Linked DNA regions of Homo sapiens: region 2 is linked to region 1. The links come from fine-mapping of genetic effects on gene expression. Tissue or cell type: whole blood. Region 1 holds a variant in brackets; the other region holds the start of a gene. All regions are shown on one strand. Distances are from middle to middle.

What was found.
Region 2: it holds the start of AKR1A1, and the variant in region 1 is fine-mapped to the expression of AKR1A1 in whole blood (INTERVAL, PIP above 0.99).

The regions. Positions count from the first base shown.
Region 1 is chr1:45,514,566-45,530,836 of GRCh38, forward strand. PRDX1 (peroxiredoxin 1) reads right to left here and starts at 7,319. Exons shown (of 6, transcript NM_181697.3): 1 at 7,264-7,319; 2 at 4,373-4,489; 3 at 1,089-1,242; 4 at 308-430; 5 at 1-72. The coding sequence starts at 4,478. It also overlaps the pseudogene HMGB1P48. RefSeq lists a silencer at 6,513-6,675 and enhancers at 7,718-7,797, 12,489-12,997. The variant C/CA (reference allele first, on the strand shown) is at 3,902.
Region 2 is chr1:45,543,364-45,559,634 of GRCh38, forward strand. AKR1A1 (aldo-keto reductase family 1 member A1) reads left to right here and starts at 7,463. Exons shown (of 9, transcript NM_153326.3): 1 at 7,463-7,792. RefSeq lists enhancers at 328-477, 498-547, 7,146-7,205, 7,256-7,485, 7,716-7,935 and 3 more and a silencer at 1,604-1,653.

The sequences.
Region 1 (16,271 bases):
GAGCGGCCAACAGGGAGGTCATTTACAGTGATCTGCCGAAGAATACCCTTATCATCAATGATAAAAAGGCCCCTGGGAAAAGAGATGAAAGGAAAAGCAATACAGGTTTAGAGATGTGCTTTGTTAGAATACAGAGGCTTGAAGCCTGAAGGAAATGGACTGGTCTCCACACTCCTACTGGCCTGGCCTTAGTGAGGAGGCCCCTGCATAAAGGAATGAAATGACAAGGAGTCTCTACAGATCAGGGCTCTAGATCTCTCCAAATAAAAGGCTTTCAGCCAACTGGATACTTGTCCTGATGACATACCTGAACGAGATGCCTTCATCAGCCTTTAAGACCCCATAATCCTGAGCAATGGTGCGCTTCGGGTCTGATACCAAAGGAATGTTCATGGGTCCCAGTCCTCCTTGTTTCTTAGGTGTATTGACCCTATGGCAAAAGGCAAACATACAGTTACATTCAAACTCTTGACTTGACTGTACGCATTCCTCTTTCCCCTTTCCCATATTCCTAATCTAACTTTCCAAAAAGACTGTTTTTTTTCCGTTTTCCAGCAATAAAGTGAATGCTGAGAACAGTTAAGGTAGGTCACTAGGGTACACTCAACTGCAATTGAAGCTGCTTCTTCTCTGCTGCCAGGTCATGAGAGCAATAAGAGAAAGTCAGACTTTGCACTCCCTTCAATGAGAAGGCAATACTTGAAAGTCTATTGCCAAAGCTTCCCAGTTGCTGTTTTAAAAGTTCACATGCCAGCCAGGTGCAGTGGCTCACACCTGTAATCCCAGCACTTTGGGAGGCTGAGGTGGGCAGATCACGAGGTCAGGAGATCAAGAACATCCTGACTAACACGGTGAAACACCGTCTCTACTGAAAATACAAAAAATTAGCCAGGTATGGTGGCAGGCGCCTGTAGTCCCAGCTACTCAGGAGGCTGAGGCAGGAGAATGGCGTGAAACTGGGAGGCAGAGCTTGAAGTGAGCGGAGATCACACCACTGCACTCCAGCCTGGGCGACAAAGCAAGACTCCATCTCAAAAAAAAAAAAAAAAAAAAAAAAGTTCACATGCCAAATAGACCAAGAGATTTACCATGCTAGATGACAGAAGTGAGAATCCACAGAAGCACCAATCACTTGGCAGTTGAGTTTCTTAAATTCTTCTGCCCTATCACTGAAAGCAATGATCTCCGTGGGGCACACAAAGGTGAAGTCAAGAGGGTAAAAGAAGAACACAACATATTTTCCTGGGGGGAAAATCGGAGTCATGGTTAGCATTTGACACAGACTTCCTTGCTTTATATTTTCCTATACAAAAAGAAGCAAGTTGATGGCTGACACAATAACCACTAACTGCCAAGATGCTCAATACAGATGTCTCCTAGAAGCTACTTTTAGAACCTGGTGCATTAGGAATACCTGAATGAAAAAAACTTCCAATCCCATACTTTATTCTCCTGCCTCCATGTCATAGCTACCAATACAGAGTAAACACTGTTCAGTCTAATTTTGATCTTTTCTGAGTGGCTAAAATTAACATAAACACCAAGTTCTCCAAAGATAGCAAAAGCAAGGATGCACTTATAAGCATGGCCTAATGCCAATGCTTAACAATACCCAGAGAAAGCTGAATTGCAGTACTCCTCTGCTGTAGAGATAAGACACCAATAAGAAGTCACAGCCTTTGCACTTCTCCCGTGATGAACCATAGTAATGGAACAAGCATGGTTTAAGTGATCACATGTGTTCCTAACGTGCCTGACAGGACAGGAAAAATTTTAAGCCAGGCACAGTGGTGCGTGTCTGTAGTCCCAGCTACTTGGGAGGCTGAGGTGGGAGGATCCCTTGACCCCAGGAGTTTGAGGCCAGCCTGGGCAACACAGCAAGACTGTCTCAAAACAACAGAAATATATATATACATATACACAGAGAGAGAGAGAGAAAGAGGGAGACAGAGAGAGACAGAAAAGACAAAAGTACTAGTGAGTAACAGAACTTCTAGCTGCAATTTTAATGAAGTCACTGGGATTAACCACTGAAATAACAGATCTTCAAACTGGCCAGGCAGCCTTCTCGCCACACCCACCAGGCTTAAATACTAGAACAATTCCAAATATTCACTCATTTCCAGGTAGCAGCAATGTTTGAAAAGTCAAACAGGCTGGGTGTGGTGGCATGGTGGCTGACGTCTGTAATCCCAGCAGTTTGGGAGGCAGTTTGGGAGGCCGAGGCGGGTGGATCACCTGAGGTCAGGAGTTCAAGACCAGGCTGACCAACATGGTAAAACATGTCTCTACTAAAAATACAAAAATTAGCTGGGTGTGACAGCGGGGGCCTGAAATCTCAGCTACTGGGGAGGCTGAGCCAGGAGAATCACTTGAACCGGGGAGATGGAGGTCGCAGTGACCTGAGATCATGCCACTGCACTACAGCCTGTGCGACAAGATCAAAATTCCACCTCAAAAAAAAAAAAAAAAAGCCAAACAAGCAGCCCTTTTTGACATTTACCACTTTGCAGTATCACTGGAAACTAACTCATCTAAACAACCCTTCCAGCTTTGCCTAACAAGCACTTTGGGGCCTCAGCAGGTCAAGCTCTGGAGGGCAGAGAACAGCTCCTCCTAGACCTCCTGCTTATACCCCTGGGCCCAGGTCACCTCCCTATGGTGCAACTTACCTTGTTTGCTGGGAGAAGCCCCAAGAACAAAGTGTGATTATGTCAGGAAACCTAGTCAAATGTTCTACCAAAAACTAACTCCAGGGACTAATGCTACACCACTGAGAAAAGGACACTTGACACCTGAGTTTCAGGTTAGCATTCTAAGGAATCTATATCCTCAACTGTCCCAGGAGATCGAGCTGCTCTGGAACTACAAGGTAAAGAAAGGAGGAGCCTCAACAGAACTTGCCAAGTGTCTGCATGAAACTATGACAACAGAGGCCGGGCGCAGTGGCTCACGCCTGTAATCCCAGAACTTTGGGAGGCCAAGGCAGGCGGATCACAAGGTCAGGAGATCGAGACCATCCTGGCAAACATGGTGAAACCCCGTCTCTACTAAAAATACAAAAAAATTAGCCAAGCATGGTTGCGGGCGCCTGTAGTCCCAGCTACTCAAGAGGCTGAGGCCTGAGAATGGCATGAACCCAGAAGGCGGAGCTTGCAGTGAGCTGAGATCGCACCACTGCACTCTAGCCTGGGCGACAAAGCGAGACTCCGTCTCAAAAAAAAAAAAAAAAAAAAAAACTATGACAACAGAAAGGAGAGTTGTTCCATCTGTAATATCAACTCTCCTCCGGGGTCAAAACAGGCAAGGGAAAGTGCCTAGCCCTCAGCCTAATATTAACAGCTGTGATATATACGTGACCCAAACAAACTGAACGAGCAGTGTCACAGCTCCAGAGATTTGAGTGAGCTCTGAGACTTTAAATGTAGAATGTCTCTTATAACAAGAGATAATGAGTATTTCTCCAATAATAAAATAGAGGAGGGCCAGAGGCAGTGGCTCACACCTGTTATCCCAGCACTTTGAAAGGCTAGGGCAGGCAGAGGGCTTGAGCCCAGGAGTTGGAGACCAGCCTGGGCAACATGGCGCCCAGCTCTACAAAAAGTACAAAAATTAAGCCAGGCGTGGTGGCTCATGCCTGTAATCCCAGCATTTTGGGACGCCGAGGTGGGCGGATCATCTGAGGTCAGGAGTTCGAGACCAGCCTGACCACCATGGAGAAACCCCGTCTCTACTAAAAATACAAAAAAAAATTAGCCAGGCATGATGGCGCATGCCTGTAATCCCAGCTACTCGGGAGGCTGAGGCAGGAGAATTGCTTGAACCTGGGCAGTGGAGGTTGTGGTGAGCCGAGATCACGCCATTGCACTCTAGCCTGGGCAACAAGAGCAAAACTCCATCT[C/CA]AAAAAAAAAAAAAAAAAAAAAAAGTACAAAAATTAGCCAGGCATGGCAGCATGCCCCTACAGTCCCAGCTACTTGGGAGGCTGAGGTAGGAGGACCACCTGAGCCCAGAGAGGTAGAGGCTGCAGTGAGCCATGACTGCGCCACTGCACTCCAGCCTGGGTGACAGAATGAGACCCTGTCTCAAAAATAAAAATAAAGAAAGAAAATAGACGAGGAATACTGAAAAGATAATTGAGCTAGTATGTCCAGACATAATGAAGCATGTGGTTTCTCCAGAAGTGGTTTGGTCCTAGGATATATACCCTGTAATCACTTGATAATCACCACTTCAACATGAAGGTAACAACCTAAATACTTCTTCCTAGGAGACAAAACATTTTACAGTCAAACAACATTGACACAAATCTAACAAGCCACCCCTAGAATATAAAATAACTCCATCTCAATGAGCCCAGTGTTAATTCTCTCACCTTTGTAGTCAGACAGGCTGATATCTTTAAACTGACCATCTGGCATAACAGCTGTGGCTTTGAAGTTGGGGGCAGGGTGCCCAATTTTAGCATTTCCTGAAGACATCTTCCTATCAGCTAGAAATAACAGAAATGAATTAGAAACAAGCCTTAATTTTCTACATAACCAGCAGCCTTCACCTACTTAAAGAGACTTAGCTGTAAACAATCAAGGCATTGTCCAGTGTCCCTGAATACATTAAATGTTGTTTTAGTAAGAAGCTCCAGCCAGCAGTCAAGGGTCACAGTCTGAGCTTTCCAACTTTTGGAACGAAACAAGTCTCTGAATCTCAGCCTTTGTTTTCATTTAAAAACAGCAAGGCAATTTCTTTATATACTGAGATAACCTCTCATTCTTTCTGAACCATAATTAGTGCAGTGGCATCTTATTCATTATACAGAAGCAGAGAGAGAGGCAGATGAAGACTCTCAAACCAGAATCCAAATGCACAATGCCACAAACACTTTTGTTTGGCTCCCCAAAAGTCACGTTGACCTTTCCCATCACTGTGCCTCCACCTGCCTTCATAACATCAGAAGCATATTTGACTTTTCTCCAGGTAGCTTTGTCCAAGACAGCACACAACCTATAACTAATTCAACTTGTTTTATTTGTTTTTGTTTTGTTTTGTTTTTTTGACGGAGTTTCGCTCTTGGGGCCCAGGCTGGAATGCAATGGCATTATCTCGGCTCACTGCAACCTCCACCTCTCAGGTTCAAGGGATTCTCCTGCCTCAGCCTCCATAGTAGCTGGGATTACAGGCGCAGGCCACCACACCCGGCTAATTTTTTTGTACTTCTATTAGAGACGGGATTTCTCCATGTTGGTCAGGCTAGTCTCAAACTCCTCACCTCAGATGATTGCCCAACTCAGTCTCCCAAAATGCTGGGATTACAGGCGTGAGCCACCGCGCCCTTCCAGTCAGTCCAACTTTTAAGAGGCAAGACCACTGGGCGCAGTGTCTCACACCTGTAATCCCAGCACTTTGAGAGGCTCAGGCGGGCGGATCACCGGGTCAGGAGTTCGAGACCAGTCTGGCCAACATGGTGAAACCCCGTCTCTACTAGAAACACAAAAATTAGTCGGGCGTGGTGGTGCATGCCTGTAATCGCAACTACTCAGGAGGCTGAAGCAGGAGAATCACTTGAACCCGGGAGGCAGAGGTTGCAGTAAGCTGAGATCGCGCCACTGCACTCCAGCCTGGGCAACAGAGTGAGACTCTGTCTCCAAAAAAAAAAAAAAAAAAAAGAGGCAAGACCAAGATATTGATTGGCATCTGCTTAATTTCAAATCTTTAGGTATTGTGTAAGCCCTAGAATTCCCTTCACCATTTGTGAAGGTGGGTTCCTGACTTTGGGGCTAATATCCCAGGGCGAAAACAAGTATAAGAATCAATTTACTGCTGAAAAGGAAGGTTGCACTGGATTCACCCAGATCAACACCAAGATTAGTATTGAGATCTTGGCCAAGCGCTGTGGCTCAAGCCTGTAATCCCAGCACTTTGGGAGGCCGAGGCAGGCAGATCACCTGAGGTCAGAAGTTCGAGACCAGCCTGGCCATCATAGTGAAACCCCGTCTCTAACAAAAATACAAAAAATTAGCCGGGGGTGGTGGCACGCGCCTGCAGTCCCAGCTACTCGGGAGGCTGAGGCAGGAGAATGGCGTGAACCCGGGAGGCGGAGGCTGCAGTGAGCCGAGATCCAGCCACTGCACTCCAGCCTGGGCGACAGAGCGAGACTCCGTCTCAAAAAAAAAAAAAAAAAAAAAATACAAAAATTAGCCGGGGCTTGGTGGCACAAGCCTGTAATCCCAGCTACTCCTAAGGCTGAGGCAGAAGAATTGCTTGAATTCGGGAGACAGGGGTTGCAGTAAGCCGAGACCGCGCCACTGCACTCCAGCCTGGCCGACAGAGCGAGACTCTAGCTCAAAAAACAGAGATTTAACCCACTAAGCCGCGGTCTGAAAGCTTTTCCAAGTCCCAAAGTTCTTAGTTCACAATACCACAAGCAAAAGAAATTTTGTAAGCATGGATCTTAGCAAACTTTTAACTGTTTTTTAAAAAGTCCTTAACACCTTTAACGACAAAAAACAAAAACCAAAAACTAAGGCATGCTGCAACTTGGTGCCCCCAAATGGCCTTCTCGTCCAATCCTTCTTTCCCAAGTGGCCCCCAAGTACAAAACCCAACCAATTCGGGGTAAAGGCTGCTGGGATTCAGGCCGCCACCGGGCCCCTTCAGGGGATCTGCCCAGCGTAGAGGGCCACATCCCTAAACCCCACTTCAGGTGCCCCCTGTCCCTCCCCAGCACTGGAGAAAGCACCAGCAGAGAGAGTGCTTCAGCGGGGACATTTGGGCTCATCGCTAACTCCATTCCACGTACAGGAAAATAAAGACGGGGAAAGGGTACCCGAAGCTCCGCAGCTAGTCAAGGCTCAGGACCCGGAACAGCCAAATACATAGAGGCTGTCTTCTACAGCCACGAGTCTGGATACAGGTCCATTCCAGAAGCTTCCCGAACCCACCCCGTCCGGCAGGAGGCTAGTCTCGGAGACCCCCACCACCAGCCCGCCCAGACGCCGCGCCACGTGCTCGAGTTGCCGGGGGAAGACTCGACTCGAGTCCACGCTTGCCTTGGGGTTCAACCAGGTTCCCGCACCTACGTGGGGGGCCCACGAGAGGGGTGTGCGCAGCGCTCAAGCAGTCTCGGACTCCGGGCCTCCCCCGGCTGCCTCACGCATCACAGCACCCCCACCCGAGCGCGGGCGGGCCCCGGACAGGAGGAGGAAGAGGCAACAGGCAAGAAGGGCGCGCCGCGCCTCACTCCGCAGGGGCCGCACTGCCCACACTCACCAGTCCCAACACAAGTCGCAGAAACTAACCACCGACACCAGGCAAGAACAAGACGCGCAAGAGCTCTCCGGGGCGCTGCCTTTATAGCCAGTAGGGATCTCGCGAGAGTCGGAACGGACGGGGGTGCCGGAGGAGGAGAGAGAGGAGGGGGATGTGGCCCGAGCCCCGCCCGGCGCGCCCCGCCGGAATGACTCGGCGCTTTCCCTCGTTGGGGCGGGTGCGGAAAAATACTAATACCCCACCCTGTTGCGGATGGCTGAGGTTGGAGTGAGGCGCCCTTGTGGCCGCTCCCGAACCCGAACGCTTAGGTTAATCCTAGATCTCTGCGGAAAACCAGGATTCTCTTTACTTCCAGGACCACTACGCACTGTGCCCTCAATGCCCAAACTGGAGTAAGCGTCTTAGCTGCTGCCCACGGAGGACCACGTCTAACCACACCAAGCCATGAGAACTGTCTATCCAAATATTTCTTAAGTTCGCAGCCTTAACCCCAGCGCAGATCCTCAGTAACCCTCATGGCTTAGATAGCTTCCTTCATTGTTCTCTTTAATTACAGGGTTGCTGCTTTCTGTTGTAAAGGAAAATAAAATATCAGGACTCCTAAACTTACGCCAGAGGGAAAGTTCATCTTGGGAGGCTGATTCAGTTACACGACCATCCTCTCCCCGGATGAATAATTTGACTTTACAATCTTGAGTCAAAACATTACACATTAGCCAGACCCACACGGTAAGGCAAAAGGCCTCAGACATTTCCTGATGACTACCCCCCACAAACACACATACACAAAATCATAATTAATTATTTGCTCCCCTGGAAACCTTTAAAGTATGTAGCCTCCCATAAAACAAGGACGTGTCAATTGCAACTAGATCTACAATATAAAGTCTAGTTCCTAAAACTAAAGTTTGTTCTATTCCACATTTTTTTGAGACGGAGTCTCACTCACCCTGTCGCCCAGGCTGTAGTGCAGTGGCACGGTGTTGGCTTACTGCAACCTCCACCTCCCGGGCTCAAGCGATTCTCCCGCCTCACCTCCGGAGTGTCTGGGACTACAAGCACGCACCACCACGCCCAGCTAATTTTTTGTATTTTTAGTAGAGACGAGGTTTCATCATGTTGGCTAGGCTGGTCTCCAACGCCTGACCTCAGGTGATCCGCCCGCCTTGGCCTCCCAAAGTGCTAGGAATGTAAGCGCGAGCCACCGCACCTGGCCTCTATTCCACAAATTCCATAAATGTTCACTACTAGATTACCTTTCTACTAGACTACTTTCTACCTTTCTAGTAGTACCTTACTACTAGATTACCCTGAGTCCACCACATAATTGTTTTCTTCCTCCATTCCCTTTTTCTTCAAACATTCACCTTATCTTATGTAAAAATGTAGATTTAGGCCACCTAGGAGGGCGGATCATAAGGTCAGGAGATCGAGACCATCCTGGCCAACATGGTGAAACCCTGTCTCTGCTAAAATACAAAAACTTAGCCGAGTGTGGTGGCGCGCCTGTAGTCCTAGCTACTTGGGAGGCTGAGGCAGGGGAATCGCTTGAACCCGGAGGCAGAGGTTGCAGTGAGCCGAGAGCACCACTGCACTCCAGCCTGGCAACAGAGCAAGACTCCGTCTCAAAAAACAAAACGTAGATTTCCTGAGCATTAGCTAAAGTCTTTGCCTCAATCTTTCCCACCCCCACTTTTCAAGGAAAATGTATAAATACTAAAAACCTCCTGAGAACCTCTTGGGAAGAAACAGCCACAAAAGTGTCTGTGACATGGTTTAGTCAGTTTAGTCACTCATTTCAATTAACACTATCTCTTATCCATCCCTTCCACTGCAGCTGAAGGAAATCTTTCTGAAGTCTGATCATGTCACTGTTATTCGTGGTTTAAAAGCTGGGGAAGAAACAGCCACAAAAGTGTCTGTGACATGGTTTAGTCAGTTTAGTCACTCATTTCAATTAACACTATCTCTTATCCATCCCTTCCACTGCAGCTGAAGGAAATCTTTCTGAAGTCTGATCATGTCACTGTTATTCGTGGTTTAAAAGCTGGGGCTAAAGAAAGAAAGAAAGTAAAATTTAAAAAGAAAAGAAAAATAAAAAATAAAATAAAAGCTGAGGCTCTGTAGTCAATTTACTGAGTTAAAACTCCTCACTGTCAGGGCCGGGCGCGGTGGTTCATGTCTGTAATCCCAGCACTTTGGGAGGCTGAGGAGGGCAGATCACCTGAGGTCAGGAGTTCGAGACCAGCCTAACGTGGAGAAACCCCATCTCTACTAAAAATACAAAATTAGCCACGTGTGGTGGCGCATGTCTGTAATCCCAGCTACTCTGGAGGCTGAGGCAGGTGAATCGCTTGAATCAGGGAGGCAGAGGTTGCAGTGAGCTGAGATAGCGCCATTGCACTCCAGCCTGGGCAACAAGAGCGAAACTCTGTCTCAAAAAAAAACACACACACACAAACACAAAAACTCCTCACTGTAATTTTAGGTGTGAACTTGGGCAAGTCTTAAACTCATTAAACCTTACTTTTCTCAACTGTAAAATGGGAATAATATTAATACTTTATTGTGATTATCTATGTAGTTCAGTACAGTACTTAGTTCTTATTATAAATTAGAAATGTTAGCTGCTATTAGTATAACTCTTCCATCCTTCACACTTATAACACCCAGAACACAGTGTAGTTGTTTCAAGCCTTCAGACTTTTTTTTTTAAGATGGAATTTCGCTTTTCTTGCCCAGGCAGGAGTGCAATGGCACGACTTCTGCTCACTGCACCCTCCACCTCCAGCGTTCAAGCAATTCTCCTGCCTCAGCCTCCCAAGTAGCTGGGATTACAGGCGCCCACCACCACGCCCGGCTAATTTTTTGTATTTTTAGTAGAGACGGGGTTTCAGTATGTCAGCCAGGCTGGTCTCAAACTCCTGACCTCAGTTGATCTACCTGCCTCAGCCTCCCAAAGTGCTGGGATTACAGGAGTGAGCCACTGAGCCCGGCCGCCTTCAGACTTTTGTTTGAACCTGGAAAACTCTTTCCCTGGAGAAAACATGTCTTTCAGCATTACTTTCTCTCCGGCTGTTTCTTACCTTTACTCATTCCCAGGATTTACAATTCCCCTCCTTTGTGTCCAAACAATAGCTTGTATAGCCAAAAAAATCTTTTAAGCAATTTTAGTTTTACATTTCTTCCTCTGCCTGCTAGAGTGACTTTCTGGAGAGTAGGATGTGGGTGACATCTGTCTCTGTGTCCCCAAAGTCACAACAAAGCATCTGATATAAAATAGGAGCTCAGTCAGTGAGCATTCAATCAATAGTATCATGTTTCTGTCTCTGTCCCCAGCTCCCTCACTAACTCCCTTGGCCCTTATAGTGGGATAATGAATGAGGAAGTGCTGTCTCATGCTCATTGAGCATCTCAATTTTTGTTATTTATCATACTACTTTGCATAGACGTGATTTATTTGCTTTTTCCTTCTTTGCCTGAGGCTGAATAGTTAGTTGGCATTATTCCTTTTTTTAATTTTTATGTAACTTTTATTCTTTTTTATCAGGCAGCCACCCGAGCCAGCAGCCAGCGTAGGCTCAGAGAGACTCCCCTTTCTTTCTTGCAGGAGCAAGGGCAGCATGAAAGTTCAGAGCTTAATAATGGATGGTTATTGGCTATGGGCAGGCTAAACCAATACACAGTACATACAGTCATACTTCAGCCCAAAGAAAATTGCCACCTATTGTATTCACCATATGCCAGGCATTGGGCTGGGCACTTGAGTTTATTTTTCTAATTCAAGAACAAGGCCAGGCACGGTGGCTCATGCCTGTAATCCCAGCACTTTGGGAGGCTAAGGCGGGCAGATCACAAGGTCAGGAGTTTGAGACCAGCCTGGCCAACATGGAGAAATCCCATCTCTACTAAAAATACAAAAATTAGCTGGGTTTCGTGGTGTGCACCTGTAGTCCCAGCTACTCAGGGGGCTGAGGCAGGAGAATCTCTTGAACCCAGGAGGCGGAGGTTGCAGTGAGCCGAGATCGCGCCACTGCACTCCAGCCTGAGTGACAGAGTGAGACTCCGTCTAAAAAAAAAGAACAAAAGCCGGGCATGGTGGCTCAAGCCTGTAATCCCAGCACTTTGGGAGGCCAAGGTGGGCAGATCATGAGGTCAGTAGTTCCAGACCAGCCTGACCAACATGGTGAAAACCTGTTTCTACTAAAAATACAAAAATTAGCTGGGCGTGGTGGCAGGCACTTGCAATCCCAGCTACTCAGGAGGCTGCAGCAGGAGAATCACTTGAACCCGGGAGGCAGAGGTTTTAGTGAGCTGAGATCCCGCCACTGCACTCCAACCTGGGCAACAGAGCAAGACTCTGTCTCAAAAAAAAAAAAAAAGAAAAAAGAAAAAAAGAAAAGAAAAAAGAACTAAAAGAGAGTGGAGCACATTTGGCATGTGACTATAGTCCCAGCTACTTGGTAGGCTGAGGTGAGAGGATCACTTGAGCCCTGGAGTTTGAGCCCAGCCTAGGCAGTGCTGCAAGAACCAGTCTCTAAACAAACAAAGAAAAAAAAACAGGAAAAAAAAAGAGTTATCCTAGCCTAGAGAAATGTTAACAGTCTATCCCCTTAAGATCATAAAAGTGAAATAACTGGACAGAGTACTGAAAAAAGAAGAAATCTGTTGAACAAGTCTAAGTGATTTGTAGAGTCTCTCCAAAGGACAGTAAAGATTTCAGAACCATGGGGAGGAGGCTTTCTTGCAGGGTCTGATGTATACCTCTAGTTCTATTTTTAGATATATTCCATTGTGCTCTCTTCATTTGCTCACCATTAGCATGGGAATTATTCCCCTTGTTTTATTTATATTTGTAGTAACAAGTCTAGCACAGTAACTGGCATAGAAGTACTTAATAAATGTTACAATGTGTTGAAGACTTTTGAGATGTAGAATTAAATTATTTGAACTACGTTTCAGGAAGTTGACTCTGGAAGCTGTGTGATGAATGAATTTAGTGACTAGGAGATTAGGCAAAGAGAGCAATTGGGAGGCCACGGCAATGATCCAGACAAGAGAAGTCTCAGAACTGTAATATGACATTAGCAGCAGGGTAGAAAGAAGGAAATACAAGGTATATTTCTTCAGGCTTTAGGATTAATTGGATTTAGGATGAAAGGAAAGAGTAAATTAAATCCAGTTTCTTGGTGACATGAGTGATGTCATTAACCTGTGACATAGGAAACACTGGAAGAAAAGCAGGTTTGAGGTTTAAAATAATGTTAAACAGGCCGGGAGCGGTGGCTCACGCCTGTAATCCCAACATTTTGGGAGGCCAAGGCAGGAGGATCATCTGAGGTCAGGAGTTCGATATCAGCCTGGCCAACATGGTGAAACCCCGTCTCCACTAAAAACACAAAAATCAGCTGGGCATGGTGGTGGGCACCTGTAGTCCCAGCTACTTGGGAGGCTGAGGCAGGACAAGTGATTGAACCCGGGAGGCGGAGGTTGCAGTGAGCCAAGATGGCACCACTGCACTCCAGCCTGGATGACAAGAGCGAGACTCCATCTCAAAAAAAAAAAAAAAAATGCCGGGTGTGGTGGCTCATGCCTGTAATCTCAGCACTTTGGGAGGCCGAGGCAGGTAGATTGTCTGAGCTCAGGAGTTCAAGACCAGCCTGGGCAACATGGTGAAACCCCGTCTCTGCTAAAATACAAAAAAAAAAAAAAAAATTAACCGGGTGTGGCAGTGTGCCCCTGTAATCCCAGCTACTTGGGAGGCTGAGGCAGGAGAATTGCTTGAACCCAGGAGCAGAGGTTGCAATGAGCCAAGATCGCACCACTACACTCCAGCCTGGGCAACAGAACAAGACTCCGTCTCAAAAAAAAAAAAAAGCAGTAGTTACATCACTGCACTAATTTGCTGTGGGAGACAGTTACCTGACTCATCAACAGCCATTGTCTCTTCTTCACAGCCAACTAAATGTAAAAGGTAAGGCAATTCAATGTAAGTATAAAGCCCATGTCCCAGGACAGCAATCATTTTAACAGTAGGACTTGCTAACCTGATAGCAGCCTGCTATAAACTTATAAACCATTAAAATTAAACCTATAAACCATGAAACTAAATGCTCTCAGATAATTGTAACAACAAATGCAAAATAAAATAATGGACGCCGGGCATGGTGGTGCATGCCTGTAAAGCCAGCACTTTGGGAGACCGAGGTGGGCAGATCACTTGAGCCCAGGAATTTGAGATCAACCTGGACAACATGGCGAAACTCCATCTGTGGGGGAAAAGCAAGAGAGATCAGATTGTTACTGTGTCTGTGTAGAAAGAAGTAGACATAGGAGACTCCATTTTGTTCTGTACTAAGAAAAATTCTTCTGCCTTGAGATTCTGTTAATCTATGACCTTACCCCTAACCCCGTGCTCTCTGGAACATGTGCTGTGTCAAACTCAGGGTTAAATGGATTAAGGGCTGTGCAAGATGTGCTTTGTTAAACAGATGCTTGAAGGCAGCATGCTCCTTAAGAGTCATCACCACTCCCTAATCTCAAGTACCCAGGGACACAAACACTGCGGAAGGCTGCAGGGACCTCTGCCTAGGAAAGCCAGGTATTGTCCAAGGTTTCTCCCCATGTGATAGTCTGAAATATGGCCTCGTGGGAAGGGAAAGACCTGACCGTCCCCCAGCCCGACACCCGTAAAGGGTCTGTGCTGAGGAGGATTAGTATAAGAGGAAGGCATGCCTCTTGCAGTTGAGACAAGAGGAAGGCATCTGTCTCCTGCCCGTCCCTGGGCGATGGAATGTCTCGGTATAAAACCCGATTGTACGTTCCATCTACTGAGATAGGGAAAAACCTCCTTAAGGCTGGAGGTGGGACATGCGGGCAGCAATGCTGCTTTGTAAAGCATTGAGATGTTTATGTGTATGCATATCTAAAAGCACAGCACTTGATTCTTTACCTTGTCTATGATGCAAAGACCTTTGTTCACGTGTTTGTCTGCTGACCCTCTCCCCACAATTGTCTTGTGACCCTGACACATCCCCCTCTCCGAGAAACACCCACAAATGATCAATAAATACTAAGGGAACTCAGAGGCTGGCGGGATCCTCCATATGCTGAACGCTGGTCCCCTGGGTCCCCTTATTTCTTTCTCTATACTTTGTCTCTGTGTCTTTTTCTTTTCCAAGTCTCTCGTTCCACCTAACAAGAAACACCCACAGGTGTGGAGGGGCAACCCACCCCTTCACCATCTCCACAAAAAATAAAAAATTAGCCCAGTGTGGTGGTGTGTGCCTGTGGTCCTAACTAGTCCAGAGGCTGAGGTGGGAGGATTGCTTGAGTCCCAGAGCTCGAGGCTGCAGTGAGCCGAGATGGCACCACTGTACTCCAGCCTGGGTGACAGAGTGAGCAGAGTGAGACCCTGTCTCAAAAAATAATAAAATAAAATAATGGGAACCCAAATCACAAGACAGCACTCATTTTTCTTTTATTTATTTTATTTTTTTTGAGACAGAGTCTTGCTCTGCTGCCCAGACTGGAGTGCAGCAGCATGGTTTCGGCTCACTGCAACCTCCACCTCCTGGGTTCAAGTGATTCTTGTGCCTCAGCCTCCCAAGTAGCTGGAATTACAGGTATGTGCCACCATGCCTGACTGATTTTTGTATTTTTAATAGAGACAGGGTTACGCCATGTTGTCCAGTCTGGTTTCGAACTCCTGGTCTCAAGGGATTCACCCATCTCGGCCTCTCAAAGTACTGGGATTACAGGCTGAGTCACCACTACCGGGCTTATTTTTCATACAGATGATTTAGAATATGTTTATGTTAAATTTTTTTAGATTATCACTAAAAGAAAACAGTTGAATTCTTCAATTTACAAGGATTCAATTTTTAAAATTATATTTGAATGTACAGAGGCCTACAAATACCAATTTCAGAAACACTGTTATCAAGGATATCTATTTGTTAAAATTGAATGCAACTGAAAGTAACAGATTAACTGCAAATAACAAGCTTAACCAAATAGGGGATTAATTTTTCCCATTTAACAAGGAGACAGGGCCGGGCACAGTGGCTCACGCCTGTAATCCCAGCACTTTGGGAGGTCGAGGCGGGTGGATCACTTGAGGTTGGGAGCTCAAGACCAGCCTGACCAACATGGAGAAACCCCGTGTCTACGAAAAATACAAAATTAGCCGGACGTGATGGTACATGCCTGTAATCTCAACTACTCGGGAGGCTGAGGCAGGAGAATGGCTTGAACCTGGGAGGTGGAGGTTGCAGTGAGCCAAGATCGCGCCATTTGCATTCCAGCCTGGGCAACAAGACGAGCTCCGTCTCAAAAAAAAAAAAAAAAAAAAAAAAGCAAGTAGACAGGGCCAGGTGGAGTGGCTCATGGTTGTAATCCCAGCATTTTGGGAGGCCGAGATGAGAGGATCATTTGAGCTCAGGAGTTGGAGACCAGCCTGGGCGACATAGGGGTACCCATCTCTACAAAAAATTAAACAAACAAACAAAAAATAGCCAAACATGATGACGCATGCCTGTAGTCCCAGCTACCCAGGAGGCTGAGATGAGAGAATTGATTGAATCTAGGGGGTTTAGGCCACAGTGAGCCATGAATGCACCACTGCACTCCAGCCTGAGCAACAGAGCAAGACCCTGCCTCAACAAAAAAAAAGCAAAACAAAATGATAAAAAGCAAGTAAGGCAGGGCACAGTGGCTCACGCCTGTAATCCTAGCACTTTGGGAGGCCGAGGCAGGCAGATTACTTGAGGTCAGGAGTTCTAAACCAGCGTGGCCAACATGGTGAAACTTCGTCTCTACTAAAAATACAAAAAAAATAGCCAGGCGTGGTGGTGGACACCTGTAATCCCAGCTACTCTGGAGGCTGAGGCAGGATAATCGCTTAAACCCGGGAGGCGATCATGCCACTGCACTCCAGACTGGGCTACAGAGCAAGGCTCTGTCTCAAAAAAAAAAAAAAAAAAAAGAAGTAGACAGCTGTTACAGTA
Region 2 (16,271 bases), 29 kb after region 1:
TATATTATCAAATTGCCTTATATATATGTTTTCTTTTTCTTTCTCCTACTTGTATTTTGAAGTATATATATTTAAATTTGTAATACTTTTTTTTTTTTTTTTTTTTTTTTTTTAGAGACAGGGTCTTGCTTTGTCATCCAGGCTGGAGTGCAGTGGCACAATCATAGCTAACTGTAACCTCAAACTCCTGGGCTTCAGTGATCCTCCCACCTCAGCCTCCATTGTAGCTAGGACTACAGGTGCACAACACCTCTATTTTTGTAGAGACAGGGTCTCAGTATGCTGCCCTGGCCTCATGTGATCCTCCCACCCAGCCTATGCTCCCTTCTTATCAAACCACATGTAGTTCCTGGAATGTAACATCCTGCTTCATTCCTCCACAACTTGGCACATATCAATTCCTCTGCTCAGACTACCATTCTCCAGCTTCCTTTAACTCCCTTCCCAACAACAGTCTATTTTTCCAAAAAACTCCTGGCACATGGTAGATATCATTAAATATTGGTCAGTCGAATGAATAAATCAATCACTTCTACCCACTTTTAGCACAGAGCAGCCTCTGTGGGTGACATGTGCAACAGAAGACCGTAAAATTAGGAAATGCAGTTGACAGGGGAAATCCGCACCGCCATATGACAGGCTGTCTGCTTCCGTCAGCGGTTATTCCCTTGCCTGCCTGCCCTAGCCCACACCACTTCCTCCTCTTCCCCCCACCCCCGACTTTCCAGTCCCAGTCCATTGGTTTCAGTTGGCTGCAGCCTCCTTTCCACCACTTCACTGCAGCATTGATCTTTGTAACTGCCATAATAGAACTGATTCCTACCCTGATATAACTATAGCTTCTATGCCAACAGCTGTAGCTCTACATAATCATGTGTGTGCATGTACAGGTGTAAGTGTGCTTGCATGGGTGCATGAGTGTATATGTGCGCATGCATGAGAGAGAAAGAGACTGCAACCCTGTGCAGAGTCCTCCTCCTCTATTCTGGAGTTCTGTCTCTGTCAGGGATGGGTGGCAGTTTGTAGTAGTTTCACTTGAAGGGGTAGGAGAAGAGGGAACAGTTTTCCTATTTCAACCTAGCTTGCAGCAGCCTATTTTGAATATAAATAATAATCATTACCACTCATTAAATCTCTATGTACCACCAGGCACTTTACATCCATTGTTTCATTTAATCCCCAAACAACTCAAAAAAGTAAGCATGGCCAGCTTGGTGGCTCATGCCTATAACTGCAGCACTTTTGGGAGGCCAAGGTGGGAGGATCGCTTGAGCCCAGGAGTTTGAGATCACCTGGGCAAATATAGTAAGACCTCGTCTCTACAAAAAATAAACAAAATTAGCTGAGCACGGTGGTGGACAGTTGTAGTCCCAGCTACTTGGGAGGCTGAGGTGGGAGGATTGTTTGAGCCTGGGAAGTCAACACTGCAGTGAGCCGTGATCATGCCACTGCACTCTAGCCTAGATGATAGAGTAAGACTCTGTCTCAAAAAATAAATAACATATATTTAAGAAATTAAGAATTTTGCTTTGGTGCATAATCAGGAAAAAAGCAATAAATGGTTCTGAGGACCAAGTCACTCTGGTGGGATTGGGGATTGGAGCTCAGATCCCAAAAGATGAGGTAGCTGACTGCATAATGCAGTCCCCAGGGCCTGGTGCCAGCCTTGCTGGCTCTCAGCAGCCACTTGAATGGGACCACAGGATTTGAGGGGCCTGAGAGGGAGAATAATGCCTCAGTGCACAGGCCCAGGGCCATTTCCAGTAGCTACCTGTGTAGGGACTTTCACTACTTGGGGGAAATGAGTCAGGTCTTGTGAAGTTGGTTTCAGAGCTGGCCAGAGTTTAGGAATGATTCGGCCCTAATAGGGGATTAGAAGGAACTTAAATATGTTCCTTAAATGTGCGCTCATTACAATGTCACTAGAAGGTCCACGCATAAAGTCAAGATCTTGTTCAGGCCCCCTTATCGCCCTGCTTCGTATATGGGTCCTCTGGGAACCTGAACTCTGTTCTTCATTCTCATTCAGACAGCCTAGCCTACAGTAAGCAGGAAGTGCCAGCAAATAAGTCACTGGGGTAGCTCCGGGACAAACTCAGAGACTTGGACAGCAGGCATTTATTTCTTCATCTCTTCTACCTGGCCACATTCCTCTTAGGGTCTAGAAACCCCTGCCAAATGCTAAAACGTTCAGTGAGGGGTGCTGAGAACTTAACCTTTCCCTCCCTCCTGCCTAGTTGTCCAGAAAGGGATGCTCCCTTCTCCTTCCTAGACAGCCATTCTCACTTTCTAGCTCTTCATCTGTTTCAGCCTCCTCTGTCGCCACACAAGGCCAACCCTGCACACACACATAGGTATGCATTCTGCCTGTTCTACATTAGCCCCTCTGGACTGTGAACCTTGAAGGCAGAGAACAAGGCTGGTCCTTTTTTTTTTTTTAAATTTTTGTGATGAAATCTCACTCTGTCACTCAGACTGGAGTGCAGTGAACAATCTTGGCTCATTGCAACCTGCACCTCCTGGGTTCAAGCACTTCTCCTGAGTAGCTGGGATTACAGGTGCCTGCCATCACACCCGGCTAATTTTTGTATTTTTTGTTTGTTTGTTTTGATTTTTGTTTTTCCGTCGGATTTATTTCCTCACATTACAGCATACTTTTCATATGAGCCTACACATATCAGATGGTAACTCTGGAATGGGTGAGTCTGTGACACTGACCCAGCACAGCTGTGAGGGTGATGACAGGCAGGTTAGCAGGTGCGCACAGAGGGGCTTTCTTCTAAATTGGAGGTCAGGTTAGATGATTCAGCTCCGCAGAGCTCATTCAGTGCTCCGTCTTCTGGTGGCTTCCCTTGATTTCTAATAAAAGCTGCAGATGGAGTCACTCAGTTCCACATGGCTGGGGAAGCCTCAGCAAACTTACAATCAAGGTGGAAGGCACCTCTTCACAGGGTGGCAGGAAAGAGAATGAGTGCCTAATTTTTCTATTTTTAGTAGAGATGGGGTTCCACCATGTTGGCCAGTCTCGTCTCAAACTCCTAACCTCAAGTGATCTTCCCACCTTGGCTCCCAAAGTGCTGGGATTGCAGGTGTGAGCCACCGTGCCCGGCCAAGGCTGGTCCATTTTTGTGCCCAGTGAAAGGACTAGGACATAGTATATGCTAAGTAAATGTTAGCTAAATGTATGATCCATGATCCCCCCCACAATTATCCCATTATTTTTTTTCTTTTTCTTTTTCTTTTTTTTTTGAGACAAGAGTCTCGCTCTGTCACCCAGGCTGGAGTGCAGTGGCATGATCTTGACCCACTGCAACCTTCACCATCCAAGTTCAAGGGATTCTCATGCCTCAGCCTCCAAAGTAGCTGAGATTACAGGCGTGCACCACCATGCCCAGTTAATTTTTTGTATTTTTACTAGAGATGGGGTTTCACCATGTTGGCCAGGCAGATCTTAAACTCCTAATCTCAAGTGATCCACCCGTCTTGGCCTCCCAAAGTGCTGGGATTACAAGCTTGAGCCACCGCGCCCAGCTTCCCTCCATCATTTTCTCCACTTTCATATCTCCTGTCTCTTCCACTGGACCCTTCCCCGCTGCTTAGCACGTGGTCATGCTCGCATTTCCCACATAGTGAAAAACTCTCCCTCCATCTGCATCAAGTCACTATTAACCCATAACTTTTCTTCCTCTTACTTTTTTTTTTTTTTTTGAGACAGGGTCTCACTCAGTTGCCTAGGCTTTGTAGTGGTGGGTGCGATCACAGCTCACTGCAGCCTTGGCCTCCCAGGCTCAGGTGATCCTCCCACCTCAGCTTCCCAAGTAGCTGAGAACACAGGTGCATGCTACCATACCCAGCTAATTTTTGTATTTTTTGTAGAGATGGGATTTCACCATGTTGCCCAGGCTGATCTTGAGAACCCCTGGGTTCAAGTGATCTGCCTGCCTTGGCCTCCCAAAGTGCTGGGATTACAGGCATGAGCCACTGTCCCTGGCCTTTACTGTATCCTTGAGAAGTCCTTCCTCTGATTCTCCATGTCTTCATCTCCTGTTCATTCCTGAATTCAGGTCATCTGGCTCAGGATTAACCATTCCACTGAAGGAGCTCTCCACATTGGTCACCAATGATCTTCATGTCCACCAAATCCAAAAGTTTCTGCTGTGGATATCAGACAACATGAATATAAAGACTATGGTAAGTAGTGGATGCTCAATAAAGTGGTTGTTCTTATATTCTTATTTGCTCACTTCTGTTTTTTTGTTTTTTAAAAATTATTATTTATTTTTGAGATGGAGTCTTGCTCTGTCGCCCAGACTGGAGTGCAGTGGCACCATCTCGGCTCACTGCAACCTCTGCCTCCCAGGTTCAAGCAATTCTCCTGCCTCAGCCTCTCAAGTAGCTGGGATTACAGGCACCTGCCACCATGCCCAGCTAATTTTTGTATTTTTAGTATTGATGGGATTTCACCATGTTGGCCAGGCTGGCCTCGAACTCCTGACCTCAGGTGATTGGCCCGCCTCGGTCTCCCAAAGTCCTGGGATTACGGGTGTGAGCCACCACACCTGGCCTGTTTGTTTTTAGACAGGGTCCTTGGTAAAAAGAATTTGAGGGGAAAAAAAAAAAGAGACAAGGTTTTGCTCTGTTGTCTAGGCTGGAGTAGAATGGCACAATCATGACACACTACAGCCTCGAAGACCTGGGCTCCAGCAATCCTCCCACTTCAGTCTCCTAAACACCTGGGACTATAGGTGTGCACCACCGTGCCCAGCTAATTTTTATATTTTTTGTAGAGATGAGGTTTCACTATATTGCCCAGGCTGGTCTTGAACTACTAGGCTCAAGTGATCCTCCCTTCTTAGTCTTCCACAGTGCCGGGATTACAGCCATGAGCTACTGTGCCTGGCCTGTAGGTTCTTCTTTTACGTATTTTTTTTTTTTTGAGACGGAGACTTGCTCTGTCACCCAGGCTGGAGTGTAGTGGTGCGGCTCACTGCAACCTCTGCCTCCTGGGTTCAGGCGATTCTCCTCCCTCAACCTCCTGAGTAGCTGGGACTGCAGGCGCGTGCCACCATGCCCAGCTAATTTTTGTATTTTTAGTAAAGACGGGGTTTCACCATATTGGCCAGGCTGGTCTCGAACTCTTGACCTCGTGATCTGCCCGCCTTGTGCTGGGATTACAGGCGTGAGCTACTGCGCCCGGCCCCTTTTTTTTTGAGACAGAGTTTTGCTCTTGCTGCCCAGGCTAGAGTGCAATGGCACAATCTTGCCAAACGCAACCTCTGCCTCCTGGGTTCAAGTGATTCTTCTGCCTCAGCCTCCTGAGTAGCTGGGATTACAGGGATGTGCCACCTCACCTGGCTAATTTTGTATTTTTAGTAGAGATGGGGGTTCTCCATGTTGGTCAGGCTGGTCTCGAACTCCTCACCTCAGGTGATCTGCCTACCTCGGCCTCCCAAAGTGCTGGGATTACAGGCGTGAGCCACCATGCCTGGCCTATTTTATTTTTTTTTGAATACAGGCTGGAGTGCAGTGGCGCGATCTCAGCTCACTGCAACCTCCGCCTCCCTGGTTCAAGTGATTCTGTTGCCTCAGGCTCCCAAGTAGCTGGGATTACAGGCTCGCATCAATACATCCAGCTAATTTTTTTTTTTTTTTTTTTTTTTTTTTTTTTTTGAGGGGCAGTCTCGCTTTGTCAAGAGGCTAGAGTGCAGTGGCTCGATCTCGGCTCACTGAAACCTCCGCCTCCCGGGTTCAAGCGATTCTCCTGCCTCAGCGTCCTGAGTATCTGGGACTACAGGTGCGCGCCACGACGCCTAGCTGAATTTTTTTTTTTTTTTTTTTTGAGATGGAGTTTCACTCTTGTTGCCCAGGCTGGAGCGCAATGGCGCAATCTCAGCTCACCACAACCTCCGCCTCCCAGGTTCAAGCAATTCTCCTGCCTCAGCCTCCCGAGTAGCTGGGATTACAGGCATGTGCCACCACGCCCGGCTAATTTTGTATTTTTAATAGAGACGGGGATTCTCCATGTTGGTCAGGCTGGTCTCTAACTCCTGACCTCAGGTGATCCGCCTGCCTCGGCCTCCCAGAGTGCTGGAATTACAGGCGTGAGCCACCGCACCCGGCCAAGTCTGATTGTTTTTATGAGGATGGCCTGATACATTAGACATTTGGTCCACCAGGACATCACTTATGTTGGGGAGACAGTGGGGGATAACGGGGGTGGGGAAATGGGAAGAGTTGCTCTCAGGGAGTAAAGGTGTGGGGAAAAGCAGAGCCAAACCGAGATAACCCTGTGTCTTGCCCATCCCTGCCAAGGAAAACACATACATGCAAGACACCTCTCCACTCAAACAGCACAGACTATTTCAAATCGCAGATGTGTCATTTAATTAATACCTGTGTGACTTTGGGAAAATTATAAATAGCCTTAACCTTGCTGAGTCTGTCCAATCTGTAAAATGGATTATGAATACTTTCCTCACAGGCTTATGGTGTGCTGGTAATATCTTCCTCTGGATGGCAGTTACATTGCAAAAAATAATTTAAAAAAAAGAACTGTATACATTTAAGATTTATACATTTTCTTTCTTCCTGGATGTAGAATAGGAAAAAAAGAAAAAGAAAAAAAAAAAGACTGGTGTATTTTCTGTATATATGCTATACTACGATTTTTAAAAAGGCTTGTACGAAATAAAAGAATATTCCTTTTCGGCCAGGCGCAGTGGCTCACTCCTGTAATCCCAGCACTTTGGGAGTCCAGGGCGGGTGGATCACGAGGTCAGGAGTTCAAGACCAGCCTGGCCAAGATGGCGAAACCCCGTCTCTACTAAAAAATACAAAAAAATTAGCCAGGCGTGGTATCGGGCGCCTGTAATCCCAGCTACTCGGGAGGCTGAGGCAGAGAATTGCTTGAACCAGGGAGGCGGAGGTTGCAGTGAGCCAAGATCGCGCCACTGCACTCCAGCCTGGGCGAGAGCGAGATTCCGTCTCAAAAAAAAAAAAAAAAAAGGAATATTCCTTTTCCAGGATTATTATGAAGATTCAATAAAACCATGTTTATTAAGTGTTAAGCACAGTGCCTGGCACATAACGTGCTGGGCGGGGTCTATGGTCCAGACAGGGGGACCAGGCACTTTCCAGCGCCTGGATCTGCAGACGCGAGGTCTTCTGTATTCTGGCCAATCTTGGTGTTGCAGCTGCTCTCTGGGCCTCAGTTTGCTTGAACTAAATGTAACGGGGCCAACTTAGGTGAACTTTGGGAATCCAGCCAACCTGACTTTAGGGAGAGTATGGAGCCACGGATGGCATTGTGAATCCGGAGGGCCGACACCAGAAGAACCTGCAACGTGGCATCTGCTACCTTACTTCCCCCGGAAAAGCGCCTGCGGCGGCGCCTAGGCGCGCGGTGCAATGTGGGCCAGCAAAAGGCGAGGCTGGCCCCGCCCCTTGCACCGCCCACGTGGCCAGCGCCACCTGCCTCATTGTGCCCAGGAGTTCTCCAAACCCGCGCTGCGGAGTGAGTGACCAAGTTCCGGCCAGTTCGACCTCGAGGATCCAGAGGTGGAGACGGTACTACCTCCCAGCTCTGTTTTCCATCCCCTTCAGGTCCTTCCTCGGGAGGCGGCGAAGGCGGTCCACCCTGCGCGTGATCCTTTATGCCCGGCCCCTGCCCCTCCCTCCGGGTGGAACTTCCCCCTCACCGCCAGACTTAAGCTGAGGATCGTTGGATCTCTGGCGGGGTGCAGAACTGAGCCCAGGCCACAGTACCCTATTCACGCTCTGTGCTTGTGCCAAGGTGAGTTTCTCTTGCTGCTGGCCTATCTTTCTCCCGGAGGAGATGGCCTCGATTCTTTACTACTGAAATGTAAGCCCCTGGGGTTGAGTGGAGAGCGCAGAGCACTGGAGGGGACGAGACTTGGTTTCGGATTTGAGCTCTTCTTTTTCTCTGTATGATCTCTTGCTAACTTCCCAGTTTCTCTGAACCTGTTTCCTCAGCAATAAAATGAGGTCCTACATTAGAACTGTAGCAAGAATTGAGATAAAGCTTTGAAGGCGCACAGCGCATACTAGGTGATCTGCAAGTTTTAATTGCCATCTTTTTGTTTGCTCACCTATGTGCTTTTTCCAGCTGCTCCGGCTTTCTTATGCAGGTGCAGGGATAGTTCTCAGAAGTGGGGAGAAGTGGGGATAATTCTCTTACTTAGACACCTGCTTTGGGTCTGAGAAAGTCTGACATGTTATTCTGTTGCCCCAGAACTCTGTTAAAGTAAGACACAGATCTGAACCTTCACTGGATGAGGCTACTGTTAATTAACTCTTCCCCTTCAGATCGTTCATACTCAGGGCTGCAGGCCTGTTACTTTTCCAAGATCTGTTTCCTTATCTTTAATACAGGAGCAATCTCAGTATGATTCTATCTGGTCCACTGGGATTTTTTGCCGAGTATAGTAAAGTGCTTTGATATTCTCCAAGAGGATTCTTTTCAGGTTTTCCAACAGGTAAAGGAAGAAGGTGACAGAGGCAGCGACTTCCTCAAATGTCCTTCCAGCTGGCCAAACTCAACCTGTCAAGATCTCTCCCCCATAAGCTGTGTGTGTGTGGTGTGTGTATTGTGTACATTGTATGTATGTATGTATGTATGTATGTATGTATGTATGTATGGGACAGGTACTCTAGGAGTGAGGGGTTCAGGCAGATGACAGGCTCAGACCTCAAGGAGTAGCCAGGTTTGTGGGGGAAATTTATATATAAACAGAAAAATGTAGTGATGTGCACATGCTATCAGTACATGGAAGTAGCCATCCATTTATTTATTTATTTATTTTCTTTTTAGAGATGGATGGGGGTCTCTCGGTCTTTTGCCCATGCTGGAGTGTAGTGGTGGAATCCTTGCTCAGTGCAGCCTCAAACTTCTGGGCTCAAATAATCCTGCCACCTCAGCCTTTGGACTATAAACTACATGCCACTGTGCCCAGTTAATCTTTAAAATAAAAAAAAAAAAATTCCCCCTAGCAAGCAGACTCAGAAAGAAAAAAACAAATTTTTGTAGAGACAGTGTTTCCTTTTGTTGCCCAGGTTTCAAGTGATCCTCCCGCCTCAGCCTGCCCAGGTGCTGAGATTACATGTATGAGCCACTGCACCTGGAAAGGAGCCAGAAATGTGAAGTGCTAGCTGAAGGATGAGCAGCAGCTAGCCAGGCAAAGGTAGGGTTTGGGGAAGGAAAGTGCACACACCTAGAGTCAGGTAAGTGATGTGACCCTGTTGAGTGTTCAAAGTCTGGAATACAGTCTGACATGAGGAGGTGGTGAAATGAGAAAGATAGAAGCCAGGTTTTGAGAAGCCTGGACTTTATCCTGAATATAGGGGAGAATTGCTGGAAGGGTTTGAGACTGGGAGTCACATGGTTGGATCTGGTGATGGACTGCGGGAAGAGGGACCACTCTGGAAGCCAAGATCTGTGGTTTAAGTAAAGAGTGATGGTCAGCTGGGCACAGTGGCTCATGCCTGTAATCCCAGCACTTTGGGAGGCCAAGGTGGGTGGATCACCTGAGGTCAGGAGTTCGAGACCAGCCTGGCCAACATGGTGAAACCCTCTCCGTACTAAAAATACAAAAAGTAGCTGGGTGTGGTGGCACACACCTATAATCCCAGCTACTGGGGAGGCTGAGGCAGGAGAATCACTTGAACCCGGGAAGCAGAGATTGCAGTGAGCCGAGATCATGCCACTGCATTCCAGCCTGGGCAACAGAGTGAGACTCTGTCTCAAAAAAAAATTTAAAAAGGCTGGGCACAGTGGCTTATGCCTATAATACCAGCACTTCGGGAGGCTGAGGCGGGCAGATCACGAGGTCAAGAGATGGAGACCATCCTGGCCAACATGGTGAAACCCCGTCTCTACTAAAAATACAAAAATTAGCTGGGTGTGGTGGCATGCGCCTGTAGTCCCAACTACTGGGGAGGCTGAGGCAGGAGAATCGGTTGAACCTGGAAGGCGAAGGTTGTAGTGAGCCGAGATCACACCACTGTACTCCAGCCTGGCGACAGAGCGAGACTCTGTCTCAAAAAAAAAAGAGTGGTGGTGGTCAGAGATGGGGCAGTGGCAGTGGAGGTAGATATGGATGGACTAGAGAAAGATTTAGGAATATATATTTTAAAATTCTTTTCACATACATCAAGAAGTACAGGAAGCATTATTGCAATCTTAGGTCTTAGGTTACATATTAGAGCATTCTCTTTTTCTGTAGCTATTAAGTATTAACAAGATTTAAAACCCAGCTAAACTGACAAAATCTGGCCAACATTACATATGTAAGGTGATTTTCCAAGCTGGCTTTTCTAGAAGTATAGGAGAGGCCGGGTGTGGTGGCTCATGCCTGTAATCCCAGCACTTTGGGAGGCTGAGGTGGGCGGATCACGAGGTCAGGAGATCGAGACCATCCTGGTTAACATGGTGAAACCCTGTCTCTACTAAAAAATACAAAAAAATTAGCTGGGCATGGTAGCGGGCACCTGTAGTCCCAGCTACTCGGGAGGCTGAGGCAGGAGAATGGCATGAACCCGGGAGGCGGAGCTTGCAGTGAGCCGAGATCACGCCACTGCCCTCCAGCCTGGGTGACAGAGCGAGACTCCGTCTCAAAAAAAAAAAGAAGTATAGGAGAAAGCCAGGTGTGGTGGCTCACACCTGTAATCCCAGCACTTTAGGAGGCCAAGGTGGGAGGGTCACTTGAGGCTAGAAGTTTGAGGGGGCAACACAGTGAGACCCTATCTCTACAAAAGAAAAATAAGGCCAGGCATAGTGGCTCACACTTATAATCCCAGCACTTTGGGAGGCTGAGGCAGAAGGACCACTTGAGCCCAGGAGTTTCAGACCAGCCTGGGCAACAAGGAGAAACCCTGTCTCTACGAAAAACACAAAAAATGAGCTGGACATCGTGGCCCATGCTTCTAGTCCCAGCTACCTGGGAGGCTGAATGGAAAGGATAGCTTGAGCTTGGGAGGTGGAGTTTGCAGTGAGCTGAGATCACACCACTGCCCTCCAGCCTGGACGTTAGAGCGAGACTCTGTCTCAATAAATAAGTAAATAAATAAGCTGGGTGTGGTGACATGTGCCTGTAGTCCCAGCTACTCGGGATTGCTCCAGTCCAGGAGTTCGAAGCTGCAATGAGCCATGAATGGGCCACTGCACTCCAGCCTGGGCAACAGAGTGAGACCCTGTCTCAAAAAGAAAAGTACAGGAGAAAATACTCTCCTCACCAACTACTTATCAAAACCATAATCTGATAATACTCATAAATGCCTGCAAGGAACTACAAATACTTTCTTTAGATGGCTTTTATTTATTTATTTTTTAGACAGGGTTTCAGTCTGTGGCCCAAGCTGGAGTGCAGTGGTGTGATTTCAGCTCATTGCAACCTCTGCCCCCCAGGCTCAAGGGATCCTCCTGCCTCAGCCCCCTGAGTAGCTAGGACCATAGAGACACATCACTATGCCTGGCTAATTTTCATATTTTTTGTAGAGATTAAGTTTTGCCATGTCCCCCAGGCTGGTCTCGAACTCCTGGACTCAAGCAATCTGCTTGCCTCAGCCTCCCAAAGTGCTGGGATTAACAGGCATGAGCCACCACACGCAACCAGATGTTTTTTTTTAAGGCCCAAATGGATTATACTATCAACATGTTGTCTGGTTTGCTTTAACACTTGTTATCCAGGGCTTTGGTCTTTTGGTGAGATAGAGTACAAAGTCAACACTCTATCCACAAGTTGTGCATCTGCGGATTCAACCTAGAATCAAAAATACTTGGGAACAAAAACCAACTTTAAAAATTCAAATAAAAAAATACAGTATAGGCCGGGCGTGGTAGCTCACGCCTGTAATCCCAGCATTTTGGGAGGCCAAGGTGGGTGGATCACCTGAGGTCGGGAGTTCGAGACCAGCCTGACCAACATGGAGAAACCCTGTCTCTACTAAAAATACAAAATTAGCCAGGCGTGGTGGCGCATGCCTGTAATCCCAGCTACTCGGGAGTCTGAGGCAGGAGAATCACTTGAACCCAGGAGGCGGAGGTTGCGGTGAGCCGACATTGCGCCGTTGCATTCCAGCCTGGGCAACAAGAGTGAAACTGTGTCTAAAAAAAAAAAAAATTATAACACCTATTTACCTAGCATTTAGCATTTATATTGTATTAGGAATTATAAGTATTTAGAGTTGATTAAAATATACAGGAAGATGTACTTAGGTTTATGCAAATACTATGCCATTTTATATAAGGGACTGGAGCATCCCAGGATTTTGGTATCTGAAGGGGTCCTGGAACCAATCTCCTGTGGATACCACGGGATGACTATACAGAAAGAAGAGCATGGGTTAGGCCCTGTGCAAGGTGCTTTAGATATAGTATCTCTTGAAAATATCAGAACTGAGATTCAAACCCAGGTCTGCGTAGCCCCACAGCCTAAACTGTTTCCTCTGTACTCTACTGCTGGATTTGATGAGTACAGTTTTGGACATGGCGAATCTCAGATGCCTATACATACTAGTGGAGAGGTCCAGAGGGCGTTGAATATACAGAAGTGGGGTGAGAAGAATCAAGGCCTAAGGCGATAACCGAAGACATGAACTCAACTAGGGAATGAGAAGATTGAGGAGAAAACCCTGAAGGGACCTTTCCTTTGCCTCCCACACCAGCATATGTGGGAGCCAGAGGAGAGGCCCATGCAGCTAGGAAACACTCATGTAGATATTGTTTCCTTTTTTTCCTGTGTCTTCTACTTCCCTGCAGCCAGGCAGCAACTGTAGAGCCCTTTGAGAAAGAAAGAATTCAACAGAGGGAAGGAACCTAGGCATTGAATTGGAAATAATAAAACCTGATTCCTGATAATACCCTCCTCCCCACTCAACCCACACATCTCTCTTTTACACTTGAATATAACATGAAGGTTTCCGCCGGGCGCGGCGGCTCGCGCCTGTAATCCCAGCACATTGGGCCGAGGTGGGTGGATTGCTTGAGGTCAGGAGTTTGAGACAAGCCTACCCAACATGGTGAAACCCCGTCTCTACTAAAAATACAAAAAATTAGCCAGGTGTGGTGGTGGGCGCCTGTAATCCCAGCTACTCTGGAGTCTGAGGCAAGAGAATCACTTGAACCTGGGAAGTGGAGGTTGCAGTGAGCCAAGATCGTGCCACTGTACTCCAGCCTGGGTGACGGAGCAAGACTCCGTCTTAAAAGAAAAAAAGGATAGCCGGGCGCAGTGGCTCACGCCTGTAATCCCAGCACTTTGGGAGGCCGAGGTGGGTGGATCACAAGGTCAGGAGTTCGAGACCAGCCTGGCCAATACAGTGAAACCCCGTCTGTACTAAAAATACAAAAATTAGCCGAGCGTGGTGGCGGGCGCCTGTAGTCCCAGCTACTCGGGAGGCTGAGGCAGGAGAATCGCTTGAACCTGGGAGGTGGAGGTTGTGGTGAGCCAAGATTGCGTCATTGCCCTCCAGCCTGGGCAAGAAGAGTGAAACTCCATCTCAAACAAAATAAATAAATAAAGTAAAAGATAGGCTGGGCACAGTGACTCATGCCTGTAATCCCAGCACTTTGAAAAGCTGAGACTGGTGGATCACCTGAGGTCAGGAGTTCAAGACCAGCCTGGCCAACATGGTGAAACCCTGTCTCTACTAATAATACAAAAATTAGCTGGGCGTGGTGGCACATGCCTGTAATCCCAGCTACTGGGGAGGCTGAGGCAGGAGAATCGCTTGAACCCAGGAGGTGGAGGTTGCAGTGAGCCAAGATCGCGCCATTGCACCCCAGCCTGGGTGACAAGAATGAAACTCTATCTCAAAAAAATAAAAATAAAAAAGATAACATGAGGGTTTCTGAATGCTGCCAAAGGTCCAGATAGGCAGTTCCTGACAAGCTCAGAGTCTGGAATCTGTTCACGCACAGCTAGGCTGGAAAGCAGTTGTATCAAGCAGAAGATGAGGAAGTCAAGAGCTGGCCGAGGATGATTTTCTGTCCTAGAGAAAAACATCTATGTGGCACCTTCATTCTTCCCTAGGGAGCTCTTGTTCTTTGCAGATCTCCTCCATCTTTCATCCCTGTTCCCCAAGCCTCAGCCTTTTCGGTGTTCAGTTTCACCAGCAAAAGAAAGGGAGAAGCAAGATTCAGGTTTCTTCTTCCTTTTCCCCTTAAGCCAGGGTGTTGTTCAAGCTCTCACCCCAGGTGTAATTTCAGAGCCTTCTCATGCGTGCTGGGTAATCTGCGAGAGGCCAACAGGTCATTGGGCATTAAGCCCAGGAAACCTGCCTTAGACCCTGGTGGCAGCAGGCCACCAGGTTCCTCTTGTCAAGTCCAGACTTGCTTGCTTGATCCCTTGGAAATTTGATTATAAAGAGCATTGCCCTGGTAGCTTGTGGTTTGACACTCAGATTGAAGTTTTGATTTTGTTTTAGCAGAAAAGAGTGGTTTCCAAAACCAACTTAAACTAGACTATAAAATTCTTCCTGGGTCAGAAGTATTAGGAAAGACAGTGTTGGTGTACTGGCTTTACTCACAACTTGTCTTTTTTTTTTTTTTTGAGATGGAGCCTCACTCTGTATCCCAGGCTGGAGTGCAGTGGCATGATCTCAGCTCACTGCAACCTCTGCCTCCTGGGTTCAAGCGATTCTCCTGCCTCAGCCACCCGAGTAGCTGGGATTAAGGTGTGCACCACCATGTCCAGCTAATTTTTGTATTTTTAGTAGAGAGGGGGTTTCGCCTTGTTGGCCAGGCTGGTCTCGAACTCCTGACCTCAAGTCTTAAGTGATCTGCCTGCCTCGGCCTCCCAAAGTGCTGGGGTTACAGACGTTAGCCACTGTACCCAGCCTCAACTTGTCTTATTATTATTATTATTTTTTGAGACAGGGTCTCGCTCTGTTACCCAGACTGGAGTGCAGTGGCACTATATCAGCTCACTGCAACCTCCGCCTCCCGGGTTCAGGTGATTCTCATGTCTTGGCCTCCCAAGTAGCTGAGATTACAGGCATGTGCCACCACGCCCAGCTAATTTTTTTTTTTTTTTTTTTTTGAGATGGAGTCTTGCTCTGTCACCCAAGCCGGAGTGCAGTGGCTCAATCTCGGCTCACTGCAACCTCCACCTCCCGAGTTCAAGCGATTCCTCCTGTCTCAGCCTTCTGAGTATCTGGGACCACAGGCATGTGCCACCATGCCCGGCTAATTTTTGTATTTTTAGGAGAGACGGGGTTTCACCATGTTGGTCAGGCTGGTCTCGAACTCCTGACCTCGTGATCTGCCCTCCTCGGCCTCCCAAAGTGCTGGGATTACAGGTGTAAGCCACCAAACCCGGCCTAATTTTTGTATTTTCAGTAAAGATGGGGTTTCGCCATGTTGGCCAGGCTGGTAATACCCTGACCTCAGGTGATCCGTCGCATCGGCCTTCCAGAGTGCTAGGATTACAGGTGTGAGCCACCACTCCTGGCCACAGCTTGTCTTATTACTTGCTCTATCCTACATCCTTTTAGAACCTGGAAACTAAGATTATATTTATAAAGATATTGTTGGCAATTAAATCAATCCCAAGAGTGATATTCATGGTACTGATGAGATCAAGGGAAAAGGTTGTATCTACCTCATTGGCTCTTGGTGTGAACATTCTCTCTCCTTTTCTTTCACTTGAATAGCTCCTGTTCAGTTATTCTTTAGGACTTGACTCAGGAAGAGATTCCTCCAAGAAGCCATCCTAGCAAGGTTACCCTTTTCTTGCCACCCTTGTGCAGCTCTTGTGCAGAATTTGATCAAAGCTCTTATCACAGTGTACTGATATCACCTGTTCCCATTACAAGACCATAAACTGAAGGAAGGCAGTTTAAATATTTAAATACATTTTTCTCTTGGGTTTAGCACAAGAGTTGGAACATTCAATTTACTGACAAAACGAGTATTCTTGGGCCATTTGGTGACCTCTTATTTGCATAGCTTTCCAGAGGGGGAGGCTCCAGTTACCTGCTTTGTTTGGTTGGAAATTTACTTGTATCTGTAATTAGTTACTTTTCTGCTGCACTGAAGTCATGTGTATAGTTTCCTTTCCTGGAAAGAGTTCTTCCCCTTAACTCTTGGGAATTCTTAAAAACCAGTGTCAATATTTCTTTGTCCTTGCCCTTTTCTGTAGTACATCATACTTGTGTCTACCATGAGTATCTTTTTATAGGTCTGTGTTTATTTGCCTTTTTTCCATTAGCTCCTCCTTAGATCCTTGGTTTTGCCACTTCTTTTCTCTTTTCTTTTC